Homo sapiens: one gene and its partners. The protein of the gene in region 2 interacts with the protein of the main gene of each other region in a biochemical or structural test. Each region holds a gene or a part of one and is shown on either strand. Other genes may lie near its edges. The genes, in order: RAPGEF6, FZD4, SHANK1, MAST2, CARD11, NHERF1 and FRMPD3.

What was found.
Region 1: the proteins of FZD4 (region 2) and RAPGEF6 interact in a test that uses a peptide from one of them, tested with the Homo sapiens proteins (one large-scale study listed by IntAct).
Region 3: the proteins of FZD4 (region 2) and SHANK1 interact in a test that uses a peptide from one of them, tested with the Homo sapiens proteins (one large-scale study listed by IntAct).
Region 4: the proteins of FZD4 (region 2) and MAST2 interact in a test that uses a peptide from one of them, tested with the Homo sapiens proteins (one large-scale study listed by IntAct).
Region 5: the proteins of FZD4 (region 2) and CARD11 interact in a test that uses a peptide from one of them, tested with the Homo sapiens proteins (one large-scale study listed by IntAct).
Region 6: the proteins of FZD4 (region 2) and NHERF1 interact in far-western blotting, tested with the Homo sapiens proteins (one study listed by IntAct).
Region 7: the proteins of FZD4 (region 2) and FRMPD3 interact in a test that uses a peptide from one of them, tested with the Homo sapiens proteins (one large-scale study listed by IntAct).

Annotation. Positions count from the first base shown.
Region 1 is NC_000005.10:131,429,230-131,432,729, reverse strand, and holds part of RAPGEF6 (rap guanine nucleotide exchange factor 6), read left to right. Parts: intron 1-1,380; coding exon 1,381-1,871; intron 1,872-3,500. UniProt on the Homo sapiens protein: Guanine nucleotide exchange factor (GEF) for Rap1A, Rap2A and M-Ras GTPases. Does not interact with cAMP.
Region 2 is NC_000011.10:86,945,396-86,948,895, forward strand, and holds the end of FZD4 (frizzled-4 precursor), read right to left. Parts: 3' UTR 284-3,500; downstream 1-283. UniProt on the Homo sapiens protein: Receptor for Wnt proteins.
Region 3 is NC_000019.10:50,660,803-50,664,302, forward strand, and holds part of SHANK1 (SH3 and multiple ankyrin repeat domains protein 1), read right to left. Parts: intron 1,881-3,500; coding exon 1,163-1,880; 3' UTR 1-1,162. UniProt on the Homo sapiens protein: Seems to be an adapter protein in the postsynaptic density (PSD) of excitatory synapses that interconnects receptors of the postsynaptic membrane including NMDA-type and metabotropic glutamate receptors via complexes with GKAP/PSD-95 and Homer, respectively, and the actin-based cytoskeleton.
Region 4 is NC_000001.11:46,027,112-46,030,611, reverse strand, and holds part of MAST2 (microtubule-associated serine/threonine-protein kinase 2), read right to left. Parts: intron 2,882-3,500; coding exon 2,749-2,881; intron 1,845-2,748; coding exon 1,679-1,844; intron 1,147-1,678; coding exon 1,045-1,146; intron 782-1,044; coding exon 659-781; intron 484-658; coding exon 374-483; intron 6-373; coding exon 1-5. UniProt on the Homo sapiens protein: Appears to link the dystrophin/utrophin network with microtubule filaments via the syntrophins. Phosphorylation of DMD or UTRN may modulate their affinities for associated proteins. Functions in a multi-protein complex in spermatid maturation.
Region 5 is NC_000007.14:2,939,368-2,942,867, reverse strand, and holds part of CARD11 (caspase recruitment domain-containing protein 11), read left to right. Parts: intron 1-2,939; coding exon 2,940-3,119; intron 3,120-3,500. UniProt on the Homo sapiens protein: Adapter protein that plays a key role in adaptive immune response by transducing the activation of NF-kappa-B downstream of T-cell receptor (TCR) and B-cell receptor (BCR) engagement.
Region 6 is NC_000017.11:74,762,128-74,765,627, forward strand, and holds part of NHERF1 (Na(+)/H(+) exchange regulatory cofactor NHE-RF1), read left to right. Parts: coding exon 1-46; intron 47-1,239; coding exon 1,240-1,393; intron 1,394-3,500. UniProt on the Homo sapiens protein: Scaffold protein that connects plasma membrane proteins with members of the ezrin/moesin/radixin family and thereby helps to link them to the actin cytoskeleton and to regulate their surface expression. Necessary for recycling of internalized ADRB2.
Region 7 is NC_000023.11:107,452,652-107,456,151, reverse strand, and holds part of FRMPD3 (FERM and PDZ domain-containing protein 3), read right to left. Parts: intron 1-3,500.

The DNA of each region.
Region 1 (3,500 bases), on a different chromosome or scaffold from region 2:
CACAACTACTCTGCTATTACACCAGAATAGCCATAGACAACACATAAACAAATGGCATGACTGTGTCCCAGTAAAACTTTTTTTTTTTTTTAAGGCGGAGTCTCGCTCTGTGAGACAGAGTGTCACTCTTGTTGCCCAGGCTGGAGTGCACTGGCGCGATCTCGGCTCACTGCAAGCTCCGCCTCCTGGGTTCACGCTGTTCTCCTGCCTCAGCCTCCCGAGTAGCTGGGACTACAGGCGCCCACCACCACGCCCGGCTAATTTTTTGTATTTTTAGTAGAGACAGGGTTTCACCATGTTAGCCAGGATGGTCTCGATCTCCTGACCTCGTGATCCGCCCGCCTCGGCCTCCCAAAGTGCTGGGATTACAGGCGTGAGCCACCACGCCCAGCCAAAACTTTATTTACAAAAACGAGCAAAGAGACCACCAGATTTGGCCCTGGGCTGTAGTTTGCTACCCCCTGCACTATACTGTAAATGAGGGGTTTACAAACTTTTTTTTGTGAAGGGCTGGGTAGTAAATATTTTCGCCTCTGCAATCTACATATAGTCTCTGTCACAAATTCTTCTGGTTTGGTTTTGTTTTCTTTTCTTTTTTAACCTTTTAAAAGGTTAAAAAACAGAACTATTCTTTGCTCCAGACCATACAAAAATAGGCTGTTGGCTAAATTTGGCCCATGAGCTTTAGTTTGGGGACCCCTGCTATAAATTATTCATTTCATGGGTAATTGGGGAAGTTGCTGTTTACTTGGCACTGTACTGGGCTAACCTCAGAGGTACGTTGAAAAATAAAACATGATTCTTCAAGTTGGGAACTCTTAATTCTGTATGCATGGACGCAGTAGTCTAATATTGTGATGACCAAAAATGAATATGTATACTTAACCTTATTCATTTCAACTCTCATCTTTACATTTTCATTTAAAATCAGTTCAAGAAAAATACTTGCCAGGCATACCTCTGGTCCATCCCAGCTGCTGGGGAGGCTGAGGCGGGAGGATCACTTGAGCCCAGGAGTTAAAAGCTGCAGTGCATCATGATCGTGCCTGTAAATAACCACTGCACTCTGGTCTGGGCAACAGAGTGACACCCTGTCTCGAAAAAAAAAAAAATATCTAACATTTTAAAATTTAAAAAGAAAAATTCTAAGGAAATTTTGCTAAGCATTAGAGTTTCTTTACTGTGTCTTCTGAGTGTTAACTAAATACTTACAAGGAATATAGTGATGAATGATGATAATATTGTTTTCCTCACGATGTTATTTGGCATGAACACTTGTGGTACGTGCTCTGTAGTTTCTCACAGGCAATAATAACTTGAAACAGAGAGAAGATAGTTTTTCTGGCAAGCCTTCTAATTGTACGTTATCTCCAATTTTAGGTGGACACTCTTGAAGCCATCTCTAATCAAGTGTTTAGCTGTCTCATCGTCTGTGAGCAATGAAGAGATTTCTCAAGAGCATATCATTATAGAAGCAGCTGACAGTGGTCGTGGAAGTTGGACTTCGTGTTCAAGCAGCTCCCATGACAACTTCCAAAGCCTTCCAAACCCAAAAAGCTGGGATTTTTTGAACTCTTACAGACATACCCATTTGGATGACCCCATTGCTGAAGTTGAACCCACTGACTCTGAGCCCTATTCCTGTTCTAAAAGCTGCTCTAGAACTTGTGGGCAGTGTAAAGGAAGCCTAGAGAGAAAGAGTTGGACCTCCTCCAGTTCTCTGTCTGACACGTATGAACCAAACTATGGGACAGTTAAACAGAGAGTATTGGAGAGCACCCCAGCTGAGTCATCTGAAGGCTTGGACCCCAAGGATGCCACTGACCCAGTTTATAAAACTGTCACTTCAAGTACAGAAAAGGGCTTGATTGGTAAGTTGTGTTTTTGTTGTCTGTGGCATTTAGAGATTAAGTAGTCAAAAAATGGCATTGGGATATCTTGGCCCTGGATTTTATCGTCGCAAAAATTCATTCTCTAACAACCTTTCTTTCCTTCACAAACAAACAAGTTATTTCCCAAAAATTCATGGTTTCTCAAAGACTTTGGAGCAGCTATTCAACCCCATTAAAATGAAAAGTCTGATGTGAAGGTATTTAATTAGAGGGACAAGTTTGTTTGTCTTTTGTTTTTAAGTTCTTTTTGGTTTTATTGAGGAATATCATCGCATTAGTGTGCAATAGTAGTAAAGGGATTATTCTCTTTATCACCTCATAAATTGTTTGGACCACAATTGGTATGCATACGTGGTAGAAACATTGAATCTGCTATTGATTTTAGGTCGTAACAGTGAGAGAAAATGCAATCAGGAAGTCCAGAACATTTTTCAGTATACTCTCTTGGTGTACATCATGAGTGTGCCAACTCCTGTTTGTGAATTCCATTCCAAGCTTTCTTAGTAAACTTTTTTTTTTAGTATTTGGCCATCAAATACTTTTTAAAAATTTCTTTCCTAAACTATATAAATACGTGGATATAAAACTGCTTTTCTACTTATATGGAATGACTCTACTTTGAATTAATATCATAATCAACTGTTAAATTTATGCAACAGTCATGGTGTCGCATTTAACTACTAAAAATGTGAAGGTGAAATGTGCTGATTTTATAGTTACTTGTCAAATTGCATTATAGGTTGGGTTTTTAGCTCATTCATTTTTTTCCAACTTTTTTTTTTTTTTTTGAGATGGACTCTTGCTGTATTGCCCAGGCTGGAGTGCAGTGGCATGACCTCGGCTCACTGCAACCTTCGCCTGCCAGGTTCAAGCAATTCTCCTCTCTCAGCCTCCCAAGTAGCTGGGATTACAGGTGCCTGCCACCATGCCCAGCTAATTTTTTTATTTTTAGTAGAGATGGGGCTTCATGTTGGCCAGGCTGGTCTCAAACTTCTCACCTCAGGTGATCCACCCACTTCGGCCTCCAAAGTGCTGGGATTACAGGCGTGAACCACCGCACCTGGCCAGAAGTAAAGTTCTTGAAGGAATTAGTTCCTCCGTACCAGCAAAGTTAAAGTTTATATGCTAGGACTGAGAACTAATCTGCCCAGGAGTGCCAGAAAACATTGGTTCATGTCTCAGAGAGAAGGTGAAACAGCCCTTAAACAGATGGCCCAAATGTCATTTCTATGTAAAGTCTCCCAGTTTACAGAGAATCGGTGTGTAGGGTGAACTTTTAAATGTTTCTGATATCTTTAGGGCTGGTGTGACTTCAGGAGTTGTCATGTACTTCTGTGATATGGGGGCTGAATTGCAGAAGGAAGCTTGTCATCAGTGTCATCTCCTTCAACTCTCTCGTTCTATTTAATGTTTACAGGACTTAATATAGTTGTTTATGTATTTTAAAAAGAGGTTTGTTTATTAAACTTTTAAAAAATGTTTTTGATCTGCCATCATTCAAGTTTATTCATTTTGTCTATTTTTAAGTTGTATTTTGTCATTGTAATAAGTTTGTGGGGTGGTTTCTTTTTTTTTCCATTTCTTTTTCATTAACATTTTCATTGCTTA
Region 2 (3,500 bases):
ACAACTTGAGAACTATAGTTATATCCAAAGCATCATGTGACCTACTTGAGTGTTACTGATGACCATATTAGCAATCAATTCTGTTGACCTTAGACTGTGGGGGTTTGCTGACGCAGGAGAAATCCCACAGGGGAAAAAGAGCCCCAGCAAAAAAGAAAGAGGCCCTCAGAAAGCAGTTCCCAATCTGCCCTACAAACTGAATCCTCTATTTCTCACTGCTGGGTGTATATGCTTCCTAGTGGCTGTCATATACTTTCAGAAATATGCCAAGTCACACACAACCTAACAAACAAAACTTTATTTTCCTTTAATACAAAATTAAATAGCAAGGGGTTTTCTTTGTACAGTGATAAATTAGAAATTTACAGTACAGACATCGATGCAGACATACTTTTGTACATCCTTAAAAGCAGGGTCCATTTCCTTTGAAATTTAGCAATTCATTCAGGGCATGTGTAGCAGGAAGTTTGCCTGGTACCTCTTTGTCAAACATCTGAAAGTCCCCCAGATTGGCTTCAAGGTTCCTGGAGCTGTGGGGTGGCATGAGGACCCAAGAAAGGCCACAGAGCATCCAGCCCGACTGCTGCACAGAGCAGGGGAAGTCACATTTTATCTTTTTTTCAGATTACATCCGATATTTCATCTACCTTTCTTACAAAGAGCTCAAGGGGCCATCATTTTTTGACCTTTTCAAGCCTCACAACATCCCTGTGAGGTAGACAAAATTCAGAAACACCTCCATGCCTCACTGGGAGAGATCTAGAAAGCAGCTTACCCCTCCCAAAGCCCACAGCCAAGTCAGGGCCCCAGCCTATTAGTACAATTTGAAAACTTTCACAACCTCGGAGAGAAGATGGACCCAACCTTTGTGGCGCAGAGTGGCTCTTGCCCCTCTTTTCAGAAGCCTTCTAGGATGACAGTGGTCATGTACTGAATATTGTAGGAGAGCAAGGAGGTTTAAAAGCTTTGAGGACATGGCTCATATAGGACCCCAAAAAGGTCCTCTACAAATTGCCTGGGGAAATTCTGGGAATTGGCTGATGCAAAGAAGAAGAGAAAAAAGGTACATCAGAAACAGAAACATGCTACTATCAGGGCAACTGAGCTTGCCAAGGGGAAGAGGCATGTCGGGGGATCTGTAAGTCATTTGTCTCCTGGTACTGTCAAGTGTGTAATCACCGCACAAGTGCATGGCAAGAGACAGCAACAGAAAGCTCTATGTAGGCTAGAGTGAAATGAAATCTATTATGTGGGGCTCCAGTATCTGATCCTTGGTAGGAGCAAAATGCTCTCTAAGGAGTTTCCAAGATCTATGATCTAACCCTGGAGGAAAAGTGATAACCCAGGTCATTTGCCAGACATAATACAAACCCAGAAGGGAACTCTAAACTCAAATAAAATAAAGGAACCAATAGGATTTTCAGAGTCCAGTGACTCGACATGATTGACTGGAATAGCAACTCTCTCCAGTGTCCTCCATCACAGAACAAAATACAAGACGTAAACTGATTTTAAGAGGTTCCTTCCAGGCCAGGTGTGGTGGCTCACACTTGTAATCCCAGCACTTTGGGAGGCTGAGGCGGGCAGATCATGAGGTCAGGAGTTCGAGACCAGCCTGGCCAACACAGTGAAACCCCGTCTCTACTAAAAATACAGAAGTAGCTGGGCGTGGTAGCACGCACCTGTAGTCCCAGCTCCTCAGGAGGCTGTGGCAGGAGAATCACTTGAACCCAGGAGGCAGAGGTTGCAGTGAGCCAAGATCGTGCCATTGCGCCCCAGCCTGGGTGACAGAGCAAGACCCTGTCTCAAACAAACAAACAAACAAACAAACAAACAAACAACAAAAAAAAGGTTCCTTCCAAAGTCTGTGCTCAATGGCTCCCTTCCCTAACTGCAGCTGTGGTCACCTCACCAGAAATCAAATACTGCACCGACCTGGTGAAATCCCTGAGTCTATTCCTCTAGGGCTGAGACTGTTGAGCTCATCTTTGTGTCCTCAGGTCCCATCTTGGTTCTCAATACAATAAGCATTTAATTCAGTGACCATGAGGATGAGGGGAGCCAGAGAGTATAGAGCTAAAAGGTGCTGAACAGAATCTCAATTCAGTATCTAGACACACAAGCTTCCCGGAACCTGAGTTTGGAGAGTGCAGGTGAGACAGTGACCTGGGAGAGGAAAATCAGAAAGCATCTCTGAAATTAAAAAAATGTCACCCCTTCTCCAGTTTCAGGCCCAAGTAAGTTGCCAGTTCAGCAACAGTCTCAGAGATCAGGAAATGGGTCTCCATAAAGGAAAGAGGATATGAATCAACCAAGTAGCTCAAGCAGATGGTTCTGGCCAGCACCACTCTACCCCCATGTTCCCTTGCCCTGAGGTTTGGCCTATATGAAGCAGGAGAAAGGAATCTACCAGAAAGGAGGTTGGACAGAGGTGCCATTGCACCATGTTTAATCTCTGGAGGCCAAGGGATTTCTGAGGAAGCTACAATCATACCCATTTACTGTAGGTTTCAGAGAAAGAAAAACAACCCTCACCTTTTCTCTAGCAAGATGCTGTCCTCAAATATACCTATACAAGTCACATGGAATACCCCAAGCCCTGAATTGCCGGCAAAGCCAAAGCAGATGTGTGGGCCCATGTCCTTGTGGCCTACTCTCATAGTCTTCCTAAGGGATTTCTCCAGAGACTGTCACGAAGCAGAGCTGATGCTTTCTGTTAAAACCACCTGTAACTGACTTGGAAGGAATCCTGGGAAAGGGATGAGAGATGTGTTAAAAGTAGAGAGACCCAGGCTGGGTGTGGTGGCTCACACAGGAAGAGATTTATGGAATGGAGACAGTGAAACAGATGGGAATTCCAGAGGTCCCTGCTCCTTTCCCAGAGGAACAGTAAAGTTCAGCAGACCTGGGTGCGTCCCCATCCTAGATCAGTTAGAAGAACAGAGATTATCTATTTCAGGGCTTTACTACAGTCGGCACTCAATAAATAAAATAACTGATTTTTTTAACAAATACCGATTTAAGAAGTGATGGAGTTGATTGAAGGTCACTGGTAACTGACCCCTCAGCCACAAAGTTCTTTTCCTGAAACCATAAACACTCTCCATTGTCTGGAATGTGAAAGGAGAGGCCTATAACCCTGTAGCATTGCTAAGGCTACTAATCCAAATGGCCACTTCTGATCAAATACACTTTGCCCTGAAAAGGCAAGAGATTTGTGGAAAAGGCATGTCAAAACCCAAAGCATTGTCAAAACACTAGCTCCAGAACTCAAAACTCAGAAATCAGGTGCCCAGATTCACCCAAGTGCTCTTTTATTGTTATTATTTAGTCATTGACAAGTATCGATCACCTACTCCATGCCTGGCTTTCTGCTAGATGCTGCCTTGGTCACACAATCACTGACACATTATGAAGAAAACTGCATTACAAACCTCTATACTCTAACAGCAAGACCAGTCCCCTACCGCCTGGTCTTCCTTCCCCTGCCTGGGCCAGAG
Region 3 (3,500 bases), on a different chromosome or scaffold from region 2:
AAACAGAAAGGGGCAAGGGAGTGGGAGCCTGGCAAAGAAGAAGAGAATGAGCATGTGTGAGAGAAACAGTTTCTGGGAGGCAAGTGTGCAAAAGGCGTGACCAAAAGTGACGGTGCAAAAGGGGCAAGAGGGAAGGCGGGGGGTGGGGGGCTAGGAGTGTCATGGTGAGAGGGGAGAGTTGGGGAGTGGAAGAATCTGGGGTTTTTAAGAATAAGAAGGGAAAGTGCTTCAACGTAAGAAAATGGAGGTAAGAGTGTGTCAGGAGGGGTGCATAAGATAGCAAGTGTGCAAGGGCTGAGCAAAGAGCAGGGCACTCCAGAGAATGAATGATGTGCATGGAGTCTGTGAGGGGGAGGGAAAATGTGTCCCAAGTGTGTCTGCAACAAGGGTCCAGAGCGAGCGGGGAGGAGGAGATGTGAAATGGAGTGTGTAAAGGAGGGCCCTGGTAGGGGAAAAGTGTGTAAGCAGCAAGAAGCAGAGAAGGAGGCATGGAGCGTGAGAAAGGAAATGCAGCGTGTGCGAGGAGAGCAGAGTGTATTTGAGCGGGCCTCGCCAGCCAGAAGCAAAGGCAGAATGTGCAAGACAGCGAGAGGGCAAATTTGTGCAAAATTGCAGCCCGGGGACGGGAGGGGAGAGAGGTGAGCAGGCGTGCAACGGAGCGTGCAAGAGGCTGAGGGGGGCAGCTGTGTGTGCTGGGGAGAGGGGAAGGGGGGAGAGCTGAGGGGCCTGGAGAGAGTGGGAAGGGTTGTTAGAGGGGTGGCAGGTGGTGGAATCCGAGGGCACCCCCTTCCCCTGCGGCCTGGGGGACAGTCCCCATCCAATCGGGCTCAGGGCTGACCCTCTATGGCTCTGTCTATCCCCTCCCCCCAGAATAGGCCCTTCCCTCCTTCTCAATTCCCCTCTGTAATTTCTCCTATCCCCCCTCCGCTCCCCGCTTCACACACACACACACACTCTTGTGTCAGCTGCCCCCCTTCAGTGAGGTGCAAATGTCCGGCCTGGATTGGGCCACCTGGTGACCTCTGGCCTTGGGAGATGAGGGCAGGGCGCAGTTTGAACAGAGTCCCTGGCCCGGGGAGAGAATGACAGTCAGGGGTCAGAGGTCAAGAGGCCAGCAGGCTCAAGAGTTCTGTGGACGGGGCTGGTCCGTCCAGGCCAGCCATCACCTCTCCAGGAAGAATTTGAGAGCCCGGTCGATGTTCATGCGGTGGCCCACCCTGGTCACACCTAGATCGACGTAGTCCTCCTTGGTCAAGGCGGGCAGGTGGGAGCCATCGATCTCGTGGTCCAGGAACTGGGCTCGGTGCTCCGCCAAACCCAGCCACTCCAGCCAATCAGCCACGTCGAACTTGGTCCAGAACCCCAGAGGTTTAGCGCCAAACGGCTTGTCCGGGGGCAGCGAGAGCAGGCGGGTCGGTGAGAGGGAGCGCGAGGCCCCTGACAAGGCTCCCCCGAGCCCCCCGGATATCCCCGGGTGTGGCGGCACAAAGACTGGGGCGAAGGGGTCAGCCGAGCCTCCTGCCCCTCCAGTTGGGGAGCCACGGATGTCAAAGAGGCCTGGGTAGAGGGGTCCGGAAGGCAGGATGGGCAGGGACGAGGGCCTGGGCGCAGGGCTGACCTTGTGCTCCGAGGCGGGCAGCAGCGAGGGGCTGGGGGCCCGGCGGAGCAGAGGGGGCCGCATCTCGAACTCCACGCCCTGGAGGTGGCGGGTGGACGTGGAGGAGGAGGAGGCTGAGGGTGAGGTGGCCCCTGGGGCCGCAGCGGCTGTAGGGGAGACCCCTGTTCCGGTGGGGAGTGGCGGCAGAGGTGGTTTGGGCCAGTTCTGAAACAGGCTGCTGACAGGCTTGGAGAGGAGTGAGGACTGGGAGTCGTCGGAGAGTCTGGAATGTGACAAGGGGGCAGTGGGGGAGGACAGGGATTTAGGGGGCAAGGGCAGGGGTGAGAAAGAGGCAGAGGTCAAGATATAGGGAGAGAGGAGGAGAGACATAAGGGTAGGGGGAGAGACGGAGGAGAGACGGGAAGAAATGGAGGGAGCAAGGGGTAAGACGGCCGGCCGTCGAGGAAAGAAATGAAGGGAGAGAAAGATGAGAGGACAGGGAGAGGGCGACAGTTAAGAGAGATGAAAGAAAAAGAGACATTAAGTGATAATAATAATAATCGTCACCGCTTACTGATGCTCACGTGTGCCAGGCATTGTTCTAAGTGCTTTACATGATTGCATCTCAGTTTAATCCCCACGACAGCCCTGATGCAGGTTACTATTATTATCAGCACAGAGAGGTTAAATAACTTGCCTAAGGACACACAGGAAGTGGCAGAGCCCGGTTATATGGCACCAAAGTCTGAGCTCTTCACCACTATTCTATACTGCCTTTCAGGTTATGGCCAGTCGTAGCAGAGTGAAAGATGGGGAGACAGTGAGAGAGAGACAAAAAGAGGGTGAGCATCCAGGGGAGAGAGATGGAAGGGACAGGGGACACAGAGAGAGAGAGATGAAGAGAGGGAGATGAAAGAGAGAAGAAACAAGGGGAGAAAAAGGTTCCCCTCATCCCTTTCGTTCCCTCCCCTCCAGCACTGTCCCACCTCAGGGCCTTTGAACTGGCTGCTCCCCCTGCCTGGCTCACTCTTGCCCTGGGCAGCTGCTCCCTCTCCACTTTCATTACTCTGCCCACCTTGCCTGTTACATGAGAGACCTTCTCCACCCATCCCATTGTGGTAGCTTTTTTTGTAGGATGGTTGCAATTATTTTGTTTACTGCCCCGCCCCCACTCCTATGTCCCTAGACTATGAGCCCTGTGGAGTTGCACAGTCTTTGCCTGTCCTGTCCAGCAGGGGATCCCATCACCCAGAAGGGCACTCTGCACACATAGGTCATGAGTCAATAATTAATGCAATTGTTGACTGAATTAAGCATCCTTCCTGTTGCTGCTACAAGCAGTGGAAAAAAAAAAAAAGAAAAGAAAAAAAAAATCCTCTTCTCTAACCAGAATACTTAAGAATAGTCAAGGAATTGCATTCAGTTCTTAAAGGCCTAATAAACCCACATTTGTTTGTTTATTTTTACAGCGTAGGAGCATTGATTCAAGTTGCTCTAATAATATACACTTCCTTTTTCTTTTCTTTCTCTCTCTCTCTCTCTTTTTTTTTTTTTTTTTAAGACAGGGTCTCACTTTGTTCCCCAGGCTGCAGTGCCTTGGTGTCATATCAGCTCACTGCAGCCTCAACCTTCCAGGCTCAAGTGATCCACCCACCTCAGCCTCCTGAGTAGCTGGGACTACAGAGGCAGGCCACTGTGCCCAGCCTCCTTTTTCTTTTCTTTCTTTTTTTTTTTTTTTCAACCTGGGAGCATAGATTTAAGTTGCCCCAAATATACACTCCCTGAACCCACATTTGAAGGTCAGACACATTTGGATAGCAGACCTTCAAACAGAATTCAAGTGAACTCTGTAGATGGACAAGGATATTTAAAACCTGCTCCCAACCCTCTGTGTATCTGAAGC
Region 4 (3,500 bases), on a different chromosome or scaffold from region 2:
TACACCTGTGGGCACAGGGGATGCGCTGGGGATGGGCTCTGGCAGCCGTACCTCCCAAGTGGCATAAAGCATCCTTGGCATCGGAAACCTAGGAATTTGAACCAGTCGGTTCCATCCCTCCTTCACACACCCCTGCTGAATATTTGGGGAAGGAGTTATTCCACTGATCTGACCTGGCATCTCATGTCAGGGACAGCAGTGGTTCTAGAAGCACCTATATATAGCTATATGTAGCCCCAACCCTTAGCTCCTCTTTTTCTAGAGGTGGCCCCAACCCCAACTCCCTGAGCCTGCCCCAGGTGTGCCCTTTGACAGGCCCTCTTCTTCTGATCCTCCAGCCTGTTCTGCCCATTCTGGGCCTCCTCAGTCACACCTTGTTGAACCTTGGAGAGCAGGAAGAGAACTGGCGGATCTCAAGGCAGCCATCCTCACTCACTTCTTCCTCATCCTCCGAGTCCATGTGGTGGTATCGCTCTGAGCGGGCTGGGCCAGACATAAAGGACACTTTCCTTCAGAGCCCTGCTGGTGGCCTCCTTGTGACCCCATTAGATTTCAGCAGAGCCCTGAGAAGTTGCTCCCAATGCAATTTCAGTGTGCACAGGTGTTTCTAGGCAAACAGGTAGGACCCATCCTCCACCCCACCCATCGGTGGCCTTACTGTCAAAATAGCTAGTATCATCCTCTGACTCCAACTGAGGAATAAATTCAGCCTTCTGGCGGAGAAGTCCTGTCCAGTCCAGACCAGTAAAGAATGGGTGCTGCTTCACCTCATAGGCACTGCCTGTGGACAGGGAGGACATGGGCAAGGGGGTAGGATGAGCAGCATGGAGTCTAGGTCAGCAAATCTAGCAAGAAGCCAGACCTTCAGAAGCTATACCTAGGGGATCAGCTCAAGCATCTTCCCTTTTCTGCCTACAGAGCAGGGCAGAGTTTCAGGATCCAGAGGGGCTGCCCGTAACCGAAGCCTGAACCTCCAGGGTACATGACTCAGCCTCCCTTACCCCTTTTCCAAGTAGTGAGAAAAGTTAGCAGGGCCTGCCCTACCTGTGCCAAGTCTCTCCAGAGGGTTCTGGTGGAGCAGTTTGGAGGTGAGGTCCTGGGCGTCTGGGGGCAGTGCCTCATCACCCTCAGGCCACACAATCTCATCTGAAGTCATCAGGGGTGAGAGGGAAAGGAGAAATTGTGGGTAGAGTGGAGAGATGCAGAAGAGGGTCCCAGAACAGTGAAAGGAAAGGAGGCAAAAAGGACCCAGCCTGGAGCCCCTGAAAGCCTTGCCTGGGACCCCAGTCCTTAAATTCTATAGGTTCCTAGACCATAGCTTGATCTTTGATCCACAGCAGGCACTGCAAAGCTCTAGCTCACCCTGCTTTTATACTCCACAAAACATACACAGACGTACCCCTCACACTTATGGGATGTGCACATACACAGACAGGAACACCCAGGTGTATATGAGAGACCAGGTGTCTATGAGAGACATGTGAAGCCCCAAGGGACACAGTGTGCACATGTATGTACATGCAGAAACACAGAGACACCCATCCCCAAAGCAGCAGACATCACAAACACACATGATGAGTTCAGAACAAGAGCTCACAGGCCTCACGAGCTGCCTGCATACATCATATTTGTGGATTCAGACTCTGTTTCCCCACTGGGCCAGGGGCATAGTACCTACCACTGATCACCTGCCCAAAGAGCTCCTCCGGAGTATCTCCAAAAAAAGGGACGCAGCCCACCAGGAACTCATACAGGATAATGCCCATGGCCCACCAGTCCACTGGCTTCCCATAGCCCTGGCGCAGGATCACCTCAGGCGCAATGTATTCTGGGGTCCCGCATACCTGGGCACAGAAAAGCCAGGCTGGCTCAGCCTCCTGAGGCTGCTGACTGGCATGACAGCCGGAGATGGGGGATGCTCCCATCTCGAGCAGAAGAATCTCTGAATGAAGACTCAGCCCACCTTAGTTAATGAACAAGATCAACAGAAGCCCCAGGGAACAAGAGTCGGAACTGTCAGTAGGTATTTCCTAATTAACAAAAATGTCTCATTCTAGCCCGGAACTACCATCCCTTAAGCCCTCAACACCCACCTCTGGCATGTGATCCCACAATGGGCCTCTGCACTCCAGCCTCTAACAAAACAGACCCTATCAGTCATGTAACAACTACAGGGACCGGTGAACAGTCACAACCTGAAATGTCAAACCAGGGAACATCCAGAGGCTGCCTCTCAGGACACTGGGCCACAGCCCAATGGAAATTCAGAGCTGTGTTCCAAGAACCTCAGGCTCCAGGAGAGCCTTGCCCTTGATTCAGGCTGGGAGATTCAGGACTGATCTCATATGAAACTCTGTGCTAACAGTTATATGACCTATTTTCCCCAAACCCTGAGGAGGAAGATGACTTTGGATTTTATATCCATATGATTCTCAAGGCTCATCCTGTTTTCCAAATGTGCTACCTATCTCAGTGCCTCTCTGGAACCCAAAGGTAGAAAAGATAGGGGTTCCCAATCTTAACATCTAGCTACAAGGTAGGCATATGGCCCCAAGGCCTTATTCTAGGGCCTGGAATCTATGTATGTGTACACAAATGTAGAGATGGGGTCTCACTATGTTGCCCAGGCTGGCCTCAAGCGATCCTCCTGCCTCAGCCTCCCAAAGGGTTGGGATTACGGGCGTAAGACACTGCGCCAGGACAAGGGCCTAGAATTTAACCCCCAGTGTATCAACTACCCTTCCTTACCTGCTTGTCCAGGAATTCCCGGGCATCCTTTTCAATATGACCCTCATACAAGTTCGTTGTCAGACTCATGAGGCCAATTTTGGACAGTCCAAAGTCCGTGAGCTTGATGTGCCCCATGGATGTAATTAGGAGGCTGGAAGAACGAAGAAATAAAATTAAGAAGTTATTCCTGGTTTTCTGAGAGTACTGATTTTAGTATATGCCCAGTTTCCCCACTCAGGCTTCCATGGGGGTACTGTGAGACACAAGCTGGGTAGCTTCAGCTGGGGGGACAGGCAGGTGTGGACACGTAAATCGCTCTGGCTGTGTGAGTGCTGCATTCTGCACAAGCAACGAACCTGCCTTTTGCCCATTCCCACAACTCCATTTCTGCTTATTGCCCTAACTGTATTCTATGTTGGGGGCAGGAGTCATTCAGTTGAGGAACAGAGTTTCTTCTACAGAGCTGAGATCAGCCTCATCCTAAGGCAGCTGCTGGAGCCATTCCTAGTCCCCTCTCCCAATCTGAGTGGCCCATAATACTCCTGTTTCAGGGAGAGGGGCAGGGGGCACACATAATTTTGTTCCATGTCCATGGCTGGTCTTGGGAGGAGGGTTAGTTGGGAGAAACTAGAACTAAGATCCCTTTATATACTCTGCCTGAGCCACTCATTTTGTGCTGAAGGCTTTACCCTGCCACCCTTTTATTCTAATGATTCCCCAAATAGTACCTCTGGCTCTGACTTCCTTTTTGAGCTCCAGGCCTACCCAAC
Region 5 (3,500 bases), on a different chromosome or scaffold from region 2:
AAGGAGCCAACCATGCAAGTCTCAGGGGAAAGCACTCGCAAAGCCCATAAGTAGGGGGCATTTTGTTTTTGTTTTTGTTTTTGTTTTTGAAGAAACAGCAGGAAGGCTGAGCTTGATGGCCCACACCTGTAATCCCAGCATTTGGGGAGGCCAAGGCGGGAGGATTGCTTCAGTCCAGGAGTTTGAGACCAGCATGGGCAACATGGCAAAACCCCATCTCTACAAAAATAAGCCAGGCATGGTGGTATGCACCTGTAGTCCCAGCTACTAGGGGTGATAAGGCAGGACGATTACCTGAGCCTGGGAGGTCGAGGCTGCAGTGAGCCATGCCTGTCAAAAGAAAGAACTAGAAGGAAGGAAGGAAGGAAGGAAGGGAGAGAGAGAGAAAGAGAAAGAAAAAGGAAGGAAAAAGACAGGAAGGGAGGGAGGGAAGGAAGGAAGGAAGAAAGGAAGGGAGGAAGGAAGGAAAGGGAGGAAGGGAGGGAGGAAGGAAGGAAGAGGGAGGGAGTAAGGAAGGGGAGGGAGGGAGGAAGGAAGGAAGAGGGAGGAAGGAAGAGGGAGGGAGGGAGGGAGGAAGAGGGAGGGAGGAAGGAAGGAAGGAAGAGAAACAAATGAAAGAGAAAAGAAATGGCAGGAGAGTCAGTGGGGCCAGAGCCAAATAAACAAATGGTGCAGAAGGGAGTGGAAGGGATGGCGGGGTCCAGATCATGGGGGCATGGTAAGAACTTTGGGATTTATTCTAGTTGTGATGAGAACCCTCTGAAGGATTGAGAGCTGAAGAGTGACAATTGATTTATGTCTGAGAAGGATCACTCTGGCTGCTGGATGGAAAATAGACTCACAGAATATTTATTAAGCACCTGCCACGTGTGAGGCACTGTGCTAAGCACTGTGGGAGACATGGGGATAAATAACGTGAGCTGTGCTCAGGTCACTTACAATTTAGTGAAGCAGACAGATCCGTAAACAATCCACCGGGAATTCAGGTGAATTGAGTCAGTGGCATAGCAGGCAATAGTGTTTTGGTTAGAAGCATGAGCTTTGTAAGTCCTGTAGCTTTGAGTTCAAATTCTGGCTTTATGCTTTACGACTTACTTAGCTATTGGCCTCAGTTTCCTCATTTGCAGATGTCAATAATGAAAGTAATACGTGTGCCCTAGGATTGCTGGGATACTGAACCGTAGGTCTTTGGCGGAGCGGCTGACCCTGTAAGCACCCCACAATGCTAGCGCCCCATGCCTGCTCGTGTGGGACCCGGGACTTACCACAGGACACTTGGGTTAAGCTTTGAAGATGCTGAGGAGCTTTTTTTTTTTTTTTTTTTTTTTGCATGAGCAGGAGAGATTTCTATGCTGTTTTTACCTAGGATTTGGGGAAGTTACCCTGTGGCAGAGACTTACAAGTTTCTCTCCCGGAACTTCCTCCTGTGTTATGTTTCCCTGGAGATACATTAATAGTGAGAAAGTGTAAGTAGAATTTGGAAGAACATCTGGCCAGCAGAGTCCCTGGCTGGTTTTCTTGGCCTCGGGCTGCTTCCTGCACGCCCCTTTCTTCATCGTCTCAGGTTAATCACTGGGGTGCAGGAGCTGGTCTTTTCTTGCTAAAGCCACTGCTCTCTACCTGCCAGATTCCTTGAGATGATTCTCCTTCCAAGACTAGATTTGAAAAATGACACTCTCCCCTTTGGTGCCTCCTTTCTTTATAGCCCTCGAATGCAACCTTCTTGTTTGGGATACTTTAGCAAAGCCGATGTGTTTGGGGAGGAACACAGGTTAGTCTCACAGGTTGAAGAAGTCTTCTGCTGGTCCCAGTTCCTGACACTAAACTCTTGAGTGTGAAAATCAGCACATCTCCACTTGTCTCATTTCCAGATGCAATAGCTGCCTCCTCCAGGAAGCTACTCTTTCTGCCACTAAGTCTAGGGAGGTTCTTTAGGGTGGAGATCCTGTGAAATTACAATTCAGTGAATTTCAGGCTGTCTTCTTCTCCTTCTCCTTTTCCTTCTCCTTCTCCTCCTCCTCCTCTTCCTCTCCTCCTCCTCCTTCTTCTCCTCCTTCTTCCTATTATTCTTCTTTCTTCTCCTCCTCCTCTTCCTTCTTCTTCTTTCTTCTTCTCCTTCTCCTTCTTCCCCTTTCTCTTCCTCTTCCTCTCCTCCTTCCTCCTCCTCCTCTCCTCCTCCTCTTCCTTCTTCTCCCCCTCCTCTTCTTCCTCTTTTTCCTCTTCTTCCTCCTCCTCTCCTTCTCCTTCTCATTCCTCCTCTTCCTCTTCTTCTTTCTCTTCCTCTTCTTCTCTTTTCTCTTCTTCCCCTTCCTCTTCTTCTTCCTCTACTTTTCTTCTTCTCCTCCTTCTCCTGTTTTTTCTTCTTTTTCCTCTTCCTCCTCCTCTTCCTCTTCCTTTTTAGCAACAGTGCTATTTATCCAAATAAAATCTTGTGTGAAACCCAGAAGAACAAACCACACAAGCAGAGCTGTTCTGGGATGTGAAGTCAGTGTGGATGCCCAGAACCCCAACTTGTCAACCATCTCCTCCTTCCCCCTGGGTAACCCCTGGATTCCTCAGGGGAATCCTTGAGTTCCGAGGATCAGAATTTGAAACCCATCAGAGAAGGGCGTTGAAGTGGGAAACACCAACTTGGATCTCTTTTATCCCAAAATCCATAACCTGTCCCACCTGACAAAGGTTGAGGGAATTTTCTCTGAGGCCTGTAGCCCCTTTGGAGCTATTCTAAATAGACTAATCAGGAACTCTCCATCAACAGGGTGATGACAGTTTGTTTTACTGGAGAAGGTTTCTTGGAGCCCTTCTCTGCCCGTGGAAGAAGGAGAGAGGGGCATAACTCAGGTTATGCTGCCAGCCCAGTGGGATCGGGGGAAGCGTTGCCTTTTCTGAGTGTTTCTTGCCACCTGCCTTCTCCCCTGGGCACCCTTGGGGTATTTCAGATCGATCAGCTAAAGCACCGGTTGAATAAGATGGAGGAGGAATGTAAGCTGGAGAGAAATCAGTCTCTAAAACTGAAGAATGACATTGAAAATCGGCCCAAGAAGGAGCAGGTTCTGGAACTGGAGCGGGAGAATGAAATGCTGAAGACCAAAAACCAGGAGCTGCAGTCCATCATCCAGGTGAGGGCCTGGGGGCGGGGCCAGCGCGGGCAGTGGGAGGGTGAGGGCTTGGGGTTGGGGGAAACGATGAACCTGCCAGGGTGTGAGTCCCCAAGCCTCACCCATGCTGACTGCAGGATCACAGGCATGCGTGCCATCCTTGGGCACCTTTGTCTCCTCCTCTGTAAAGCGGTGACCCCCACCACCCATTTGTCAGAGATAGGATATCATACTTGGGAAAACATGTGCTTATTTGAAGCACTCCAGGAAAATCACCAACCACGTGGAAATCAATGCCCTGGGCACTGTGGGAAGAGACAAGGACATCTAGGAAACCTACGTGCCCTTAAAGATTCCAAGAAACTCAACTGTAAGCTCCGTGCCTCTTGTTCCAACCTCAAA
Region 6 (3,500 bases), on a different chromosome or scaffold from region 2:
CCCGGCTGAGGCTTCAGGGCTCCGGGCCCAGGATCGCATTGTGGAGGTGATGCTTCTCGCTCTCTTCCTATCTGACTGCCCCCACCCCCTGCAGATCAGCAGCACCTGGGGCAGCCATCATACCATCATGGGCTTGATTAGCCCACGGGCATAGCCAACCTGGAGCTGCTGGATGGATGGGTGGATGGGAGGGAGGGAGGGAAGGGTGGTGGATGGATAGACGGAAGGACAGATGGACTGACTGATGGACTCTTCTCTTACCTCCACTCCCCTGGACTCCTCCTTGCCAAGCAGATACAGTGGGCAGCCTGTGATTCACCCATCGATCAGGGAGATGTCTGGGGCCATCTCCAGAGCTTCCCTGCTGCCAGGCACACAGAGTGGGGTGGCAGTAACAAAACCCCTCTCCTGAGTTAGGCCTTTATTTATTTAGTTTTTTTTTTTTTAAATGGAGTCTCGCTTTGTTGCCCAGGCTGGGGGAGTGCAGTGGCACAATCCCAGCTCACTGCAACCTCCGCCTCCTGGGTTCAAGCGATTCTCCTGCCTCAGCCTCCTGAGTAGCTGGGATTACAGGTGCCCACCACCACGCCTGGCTAATGTTTGCATTTTTAGTAGAGACAGGATTTCACCATGTTGGCCAGGCTGGTCTCAAACTCCTGACCTCAAGTGATCTGCCCGCCTCGGCCTCCCAAAGTGCTGGGATTCCAGGCGTGAGCCACCTCACCCGGCCCCGAGTTAGGCTTTTAGACTCGTGCATTCAGGGCTCTGGTGCTGTGCTCCTGGGAGAGGAAACGTGAACCAAATGCTCAGGCAGGTCCCAGAATCACAGTCTTAGAACCTTAGAGCTAGAGATCAGCTCTCCCAAGACTTCTCATTTTACACGTGAGAAAACCAAGGCCCAGAGAAGGAAGTCGGACAGCAAGTCCTTACCCAGGCTGGGCCCCACCCCGGCCTCCCAGCTCGCTCCCATCCCATCTCTCCCAGCTGTGTTTGTTTAGTCTCGTCTGGATATTTTCGTTGGCCCTTCCCATGTATCCTGCCTCCCCAGCTGACTGTCAATGGGAGGACCCCCAGCCTAGTTCAGGACTCTGCAGAAATGGCGGGGGTCAGTATCCCCAGGTTGTGAACTGCAAACTGGCTGAGAACCAAGGTGGTCACCCCTGCCCCCAACCCCCCTCCACTTACCTGCCCCAGAACCAAGGCCTGTGTCCGTAACGCCTCCCCGACCCTGCCCTGCAGGTGAACGGGGTCTGCATGGAGGGGAAGCAGCATGGGGACGTGGTGTCCGCCATCAGGGCTGGCGGGGACGAGACCAAGCTGCTGGTGGTGGACAGGGAAACTGACGAGTTCTTCAAGAAATGCAGAGTGATCCCATCTCAGGAGCACCTGAATGGTAAGCCAGGTGGGGCCACTGGCCGTCCTGGGGCTGGAGCCCCCCAAGTCAGGGATGTGAGCCAGGGCTAAGACTGCTGGGTCCCAGGCGAGGGGTGGGCAGCTTCCCGGCATGGGTGCTCCCTCCTCCTCCTTCATGGGAGGCCCAGAGGTGTGGGCTGGGGGAGCGGGGGCCTAGTGTAGGGAGTGGCAGTGGGTTTCTGAGGACGGCTTGTGATGGGGTCAGCTGGCATGAGGTCGGTGAGAGAGATGGACAGATCTTCTTATTCCCGGCCAAAGCTGCAGCCCCAAAGGAGGCCCAAGCCCCCAGTCCTGTCCCCACCAGCAGACTTTCAGGGCAGTGTCAATGTGAGGAAAGGGTTAACTCCGGGGAGGCCTCCAGCCTTTGCTTGGTCAGATCAGAGTCCAGTGACGGGGGCCGGTGCCTCCCCCTCCCTCCTCTCAGGTTGTCTTGGAAACTCAGCCTTGCTGGCTCTAGAGAGTAGTGGGTCCCCCTTCAATCCCTGGGCCCCTGCCCTCCCCATCCCCCACCATCACCCTGCCAAGCCTGGCGCCTCCCCCTGCCCAGGCCCGAGCCAAACAGGGCAGGGCTGCTGCACCGGGGCAGGGAGGGGTTAAGCATGCTCTGCTCCTTGGTCTGGACTTTCTCCCTGGGAAGATGGCTCCCTGGAGCGGGCAGGGGTGCTCACTGGGCCATACTGAGGGTGGAACCTCTTGGGACTTTGCAGTGGGTGGGGCCTCCTGGAGACTCAAGGTTGTATGTGTAAAAGGAGATTCACACAAAGGTCCTGCGACTCCCATCGCCAGCTGCAAGGGCCCACTGGGGAGGCCCTGTCCCCTTCTGGCGCAATCCAAGGCCTGAGGCTCCTAGAAGAGGGGATGGCCCCTGGAAGTCCCTAGCTGGCTCTGGGCATGGGAGGTGGGGTACCGCCTTACCCTTATCTCCCAAGTTCATGGAAACCAGGTAACTCAGATAATCCCCTTCTCCACTGAGGGGGAGACTAAGGCCCAGAGAAGCCCCAGCCTTCCTCCTAGGGATCTGATACGAGGAAGACACAGCTGGAATCTGGATTCCACTCAGCTCCTGGGATACTGTCCCCTGCTTCCCCCACCCCTTCACCCTGCAGGTAATTGGCCCCCTCAGACATTCCTCCCTCTTCTGCCTGTCTCTCGGGCTAGAGGGGCTGCAGCCTCTGGCCAAAGGACCTGAAGAGGGAGAGGCCTGGGGACAGTCCCCTCCCCGCAGTCCCTCCAGGATGGCATCCTCACCCTTTCCATAGGGAGGAATGCCCCCCTCTCCGGCTGCCAGGGTTTCACCCTGACCACTGTGAGCTGATGGGGAGGGGACAGTGAGTGACCCTGTGTCCCAGCAGCCTGTCCTTGCCCGGGGAAGGCTGTGGGTGTCAAAAGGGAGGAGAAGATGAGAGTCAGGTATCTCTGGCTGTGTCCTGGACTGGGGACAGGGAAAAGATAACCAGGAATTTTAAGCTAAGAGTTCAGAAGAAGCCCTACACTGACCAGTCCCTGGAGATGGAACAGCCACCCCTGAAGCCATGTGGGACCCCTACCCTGAGTGAGCCCAGTGAAGGTGACCCCAGACCTGTCTTCTCTCCCTCTGACCCCTCCAGGTTTCCCACTGGCTGGGGGAGGGGATACCCAGGACACACCCCTTGAGCCTTCTCGTCCCCCCTCATTTCCTGATTGGCAAATAGGAGTTGGGATTATTTTCTCTTTTTTTCTTTTTCTTTTTCTTTTTTTTGAGATGGAGTCCTGCTCTGTCACCCAGGCTGGAGTGCAGTGGTGCGATCTCGGCTCACAGCAACATCTGCCCCTAGATTCAAGTGATTCTTCTGCCTCAGTCTCCTGAGTAGCCGGGACTACAGCCATGCGCCACCACGCCCAGCAAATTTTTATATTTTTAGTAGAGATGGGGTTTCACTATGTTGGCCAGGATGGTCTCGATCTCTTGACCTTGTGATCCGCCCACCTCGGCCTCCCAAAGTACTGCGATTACAAGTGTGAGCCACCGCGCCTGGCCTTTTTTTTTTTTTTTCCGGACACAGTCTCTGTCACCCAGGCTAGAGTGCAATGGCACAATCTTGGCTCAC
Region 7 (3,500 bases), on a different chromosome or scaffold from region 2:
TTTGAGGCTACAGTGAGCCATGATCATGCCACTGTACTCATCTGGGCAACGGAGTGAGACCCTGTCTCTAAAAATAATAATAATAATAATAATAGTCATCCACTATACCCACTCTATCTTCCTAGCCTTATCTTCCATTCCTGCCCTATTTCTCTATGACACAGCCACCCTACGTACTTGCTCAAGTTTTTTCCAGTCTGAACTTCATCCCTTCACTTATTCATGAAGTCATTCATTTGAGTAGTCAACAAATATTTATTAAGTATCTCTTCTATGCACTAGGCACTGTAAATTCAAAGATGACTGAGAAGGAGAAGGACAGGAAGCCTCCTTCATCTTTTGTATTATCCACAGCAACTAGCACAGTGCCTTGTACATAATTGGTGCTCAATAAATGTTTTATGAACTAATGTGCAGGGGGAGATGCGATAGAATCCCTGTCTAATATGAATCAACAAGTATTTGGTCCAATTCAACATATGCCTATTGAGTACCTACTGTGTATTAGGCACATATGCTATGGGGATTTAAAAAAATTAAAAAAAAAGATGTACTTGCCAAATGTATTTTTATTTATTTATTTATTTAGAGACAGGGTCTCACTCTGTCACCCAGGCTGGAGTGCACTGGTGCGACCACAGCTCACTGCAGTCTCGACCTCCCGTGTTCAAGCCATCCTCCCGCCTCAGCCTCTCTGTAGTCCCGAGTAGCTGAGATAACAGGTATGCACCACCATACCCAGCTAATGTTTTAGTTTTTTGTAGAAATAGGGTCTCGCTATGTTGCAAGGGCTGGTTTCAAACTCCTGGGCTCAAGCTGTCCTCCCACCTCAGCCTCCCAAAGTGTTAGGATTACAGGCCTGAGCCACCACACCCAGCCCCAAATGTATTTTAGAGACGGAGGAGTTGAGAGGAGAGAGAGATCACTTTAGTCTAAAATGATCAGAGAAGATTTCACAGAGGAGGTGAATTTGAATGTAGAGCTGAAGGATAGGTATAGTGATATGGAATAGGAGAGAAGCATAGGCAGAAAGGAAAGGGCATTCCTGGTGAGTGAAATGGAATGAACAAAAACATAGAGGCAAAAAAAATGTACAAGGTACGTTTAGGAGATCCTGGGGTAAGAAACTTGGCTGGAGTAGAAGGGTCCATGTAGGGCTTTGTTTCACAAGTAGATCAAGTGTATCAAAATCACTTGGGGAGCTTGTTAAAATGCATATTCCTGGACTCCAGCTTCCAGACCTACTGAATCAGAAGCTCAGGAGGTAGGACTCAGGAATCTGCATTATAACAAGTTCCCTCAAGCAATTTTAAGACACATTAAAATTTGAGAATCAATGATGTGGACCAAGCATGAGAAATAGGGTTGGAAGAATATACAGGGTTAGGTCCACACAAGGAGAACTTTGAATGCCAGGCTAAGGAGGCTGAAATTTATCCCACAGGCAATCAGGTATCACCCTCCAAGGATGATGATCAGAAGCATTATGAATAAAGGATATTCCACAACATTAATCTAGCAGTTGTGTGTATTATGGACTGGAAAGGAAAGAGACTAGTGCAGTGTGGCTGTGAGGTGGTGGCAGGAGTCAGGGTGGACTGGGGCATAGGGGATGAGTCAGAGATGGCTTTGAGGTTTCTAGACTGGGAGACAAGAAGCCTTATGGTAAAAGAAAGGTGAGAAGAGTGAGTCATCTCTGAGAAATAATGAGATGAGTTTGTGAATACTGAGTCTGAGAGCAAGCTATCCAAGAGGAAATGTTTAGCAAGCAGTTGGAAATATAGGACTGAACCTCAGGAGTGGGGTTAAGTTTGGGCTAGAGAAATGGGAATGGTTGGTAAAGAGGTGAGAAGGGAAGCCATGCATGCCTGTGTGTCCTTGTCAATAAAGAAAGTGGAAAGCAGGAGGAGCTGGAGAACACCCAGATTTGAGGGGTAGTAAGAAGAACTAGCAATAAAAGAGAAAAAAGGAGGGGTCACTTGGCTGGAAGGAGACCCAGATATTAGAACCTAGCAGAGAGTTCTTTCAAAAGCTGCGGGTGGCTAGTAGTGTGGCTAATGGCAAAGTGAATTTGAGGCACAGAGCAAAAACACTGGCTACGGCATGCATGCTGAGAAAGCTGCAAGAGTGCACACACCTGCTCATTCTCATGTTCCTTAACACAAACACACAGAAATAGACACACCTGCTCCTACAGATACACAAGTAGCACCTCTTTCCCTCTCTCTCCTTTCCCCGCCCCACGTTATACACATATTCCCATTTCCAGGCTCATTTTCTGACTACCAGGGATTGGGCACTAGTGTGCCACAGGCTGTTAATGTTCTGTTTTAAGGATGGTGCCTCAGGTCTCAGAAAAGGGTGCTCTGCCTGTCATGGGTGGGAAATAATACAGAACCCCAAGATCACTGTCCTTGCCTTTGGCAGCTCAGCTGAGGGGAGGAAAGGAGGGAAAATGGCATGTTTCTCTGGATTTGCTCCCTACCCTACCCCTTTGCCCCTAGCCCCAGGATTTCTCAGCAGACAATAAGGTCCACCCCATTTTGAGAGTCCTTCATTTTGGCTGCCGATAATGCAAGAGAATGTTTTTGTTTCTGAACTTATGGTAAAAAGGAAAATAGAAGTCCTTGAGAGAAGAGCCAGAACAGAATTTTCTGCTGGGAATGCTAATGGCCTTAAGGCTGCCCCACAAACAGAAGCTGACTTGAGTGTGCTTCCTCCCAGGGGGCCTGTCAAAGCTAAGGGTCTTCATCTAGTATCAATAGGTATCAATTCTAGTCCCCCTAGCAATGATTGCTAGGGCCTATATGTGAAGGCAAGAACCCCCCAAAACCAAGCTTGTCTGCATGAGCCTCTCTTTCCACAATTTGCCCCAGGTATGTGTTGGGGTTTGAGGGTGTGTCTGAGGGGTGTGTGTCTTGTGTGTGATATGTGTGTGTGTATTTGTGTGTATGTGTATGTATGTGTGTCTTATGGCTTCATTCAGTTAGCCTGGAGGTGCCACAAAAACAGGGATCTTTCCTCTGTTGCATTGGTGCTGCCCCTCCAAGTGCCTTATCAGGCATTAGCCACGGAGTCCAATCATTTATGCGTAGTGGGGGAGGGTGGGTACAGAGTGCTTCCGTTGTCCTGCATCCACCCATGCTCCCTCCAAGGGCTGAAGTAAGGATTACTGCGGTGGGGCAATTCCTCTCCTCTACTCATCCCACCCGAGACTCCTCTGTTACCCACCCCCACCCCCATCTCCAGCAAGCCTTTCCCAGCTTGCTGCTATCATCAGCAATCCCAGGGCTTTCTTGTTGCACTTTTTCAATCTACTACTGCTCCTAGAGGATGTCGTTGGTCACAAAATCCCCCAACTGGGCCACACAGCTCACTTCTCAAGACCCTCGGACTGCACCACTTACAAGAGGGAGGGGTCCCCTGACTCATTCCAAATGCAGCTCGCAGCCTCATAGGAGTCCCCAGACCTCTCCTCCAGTGGGGTAGAGGCTCTGTTG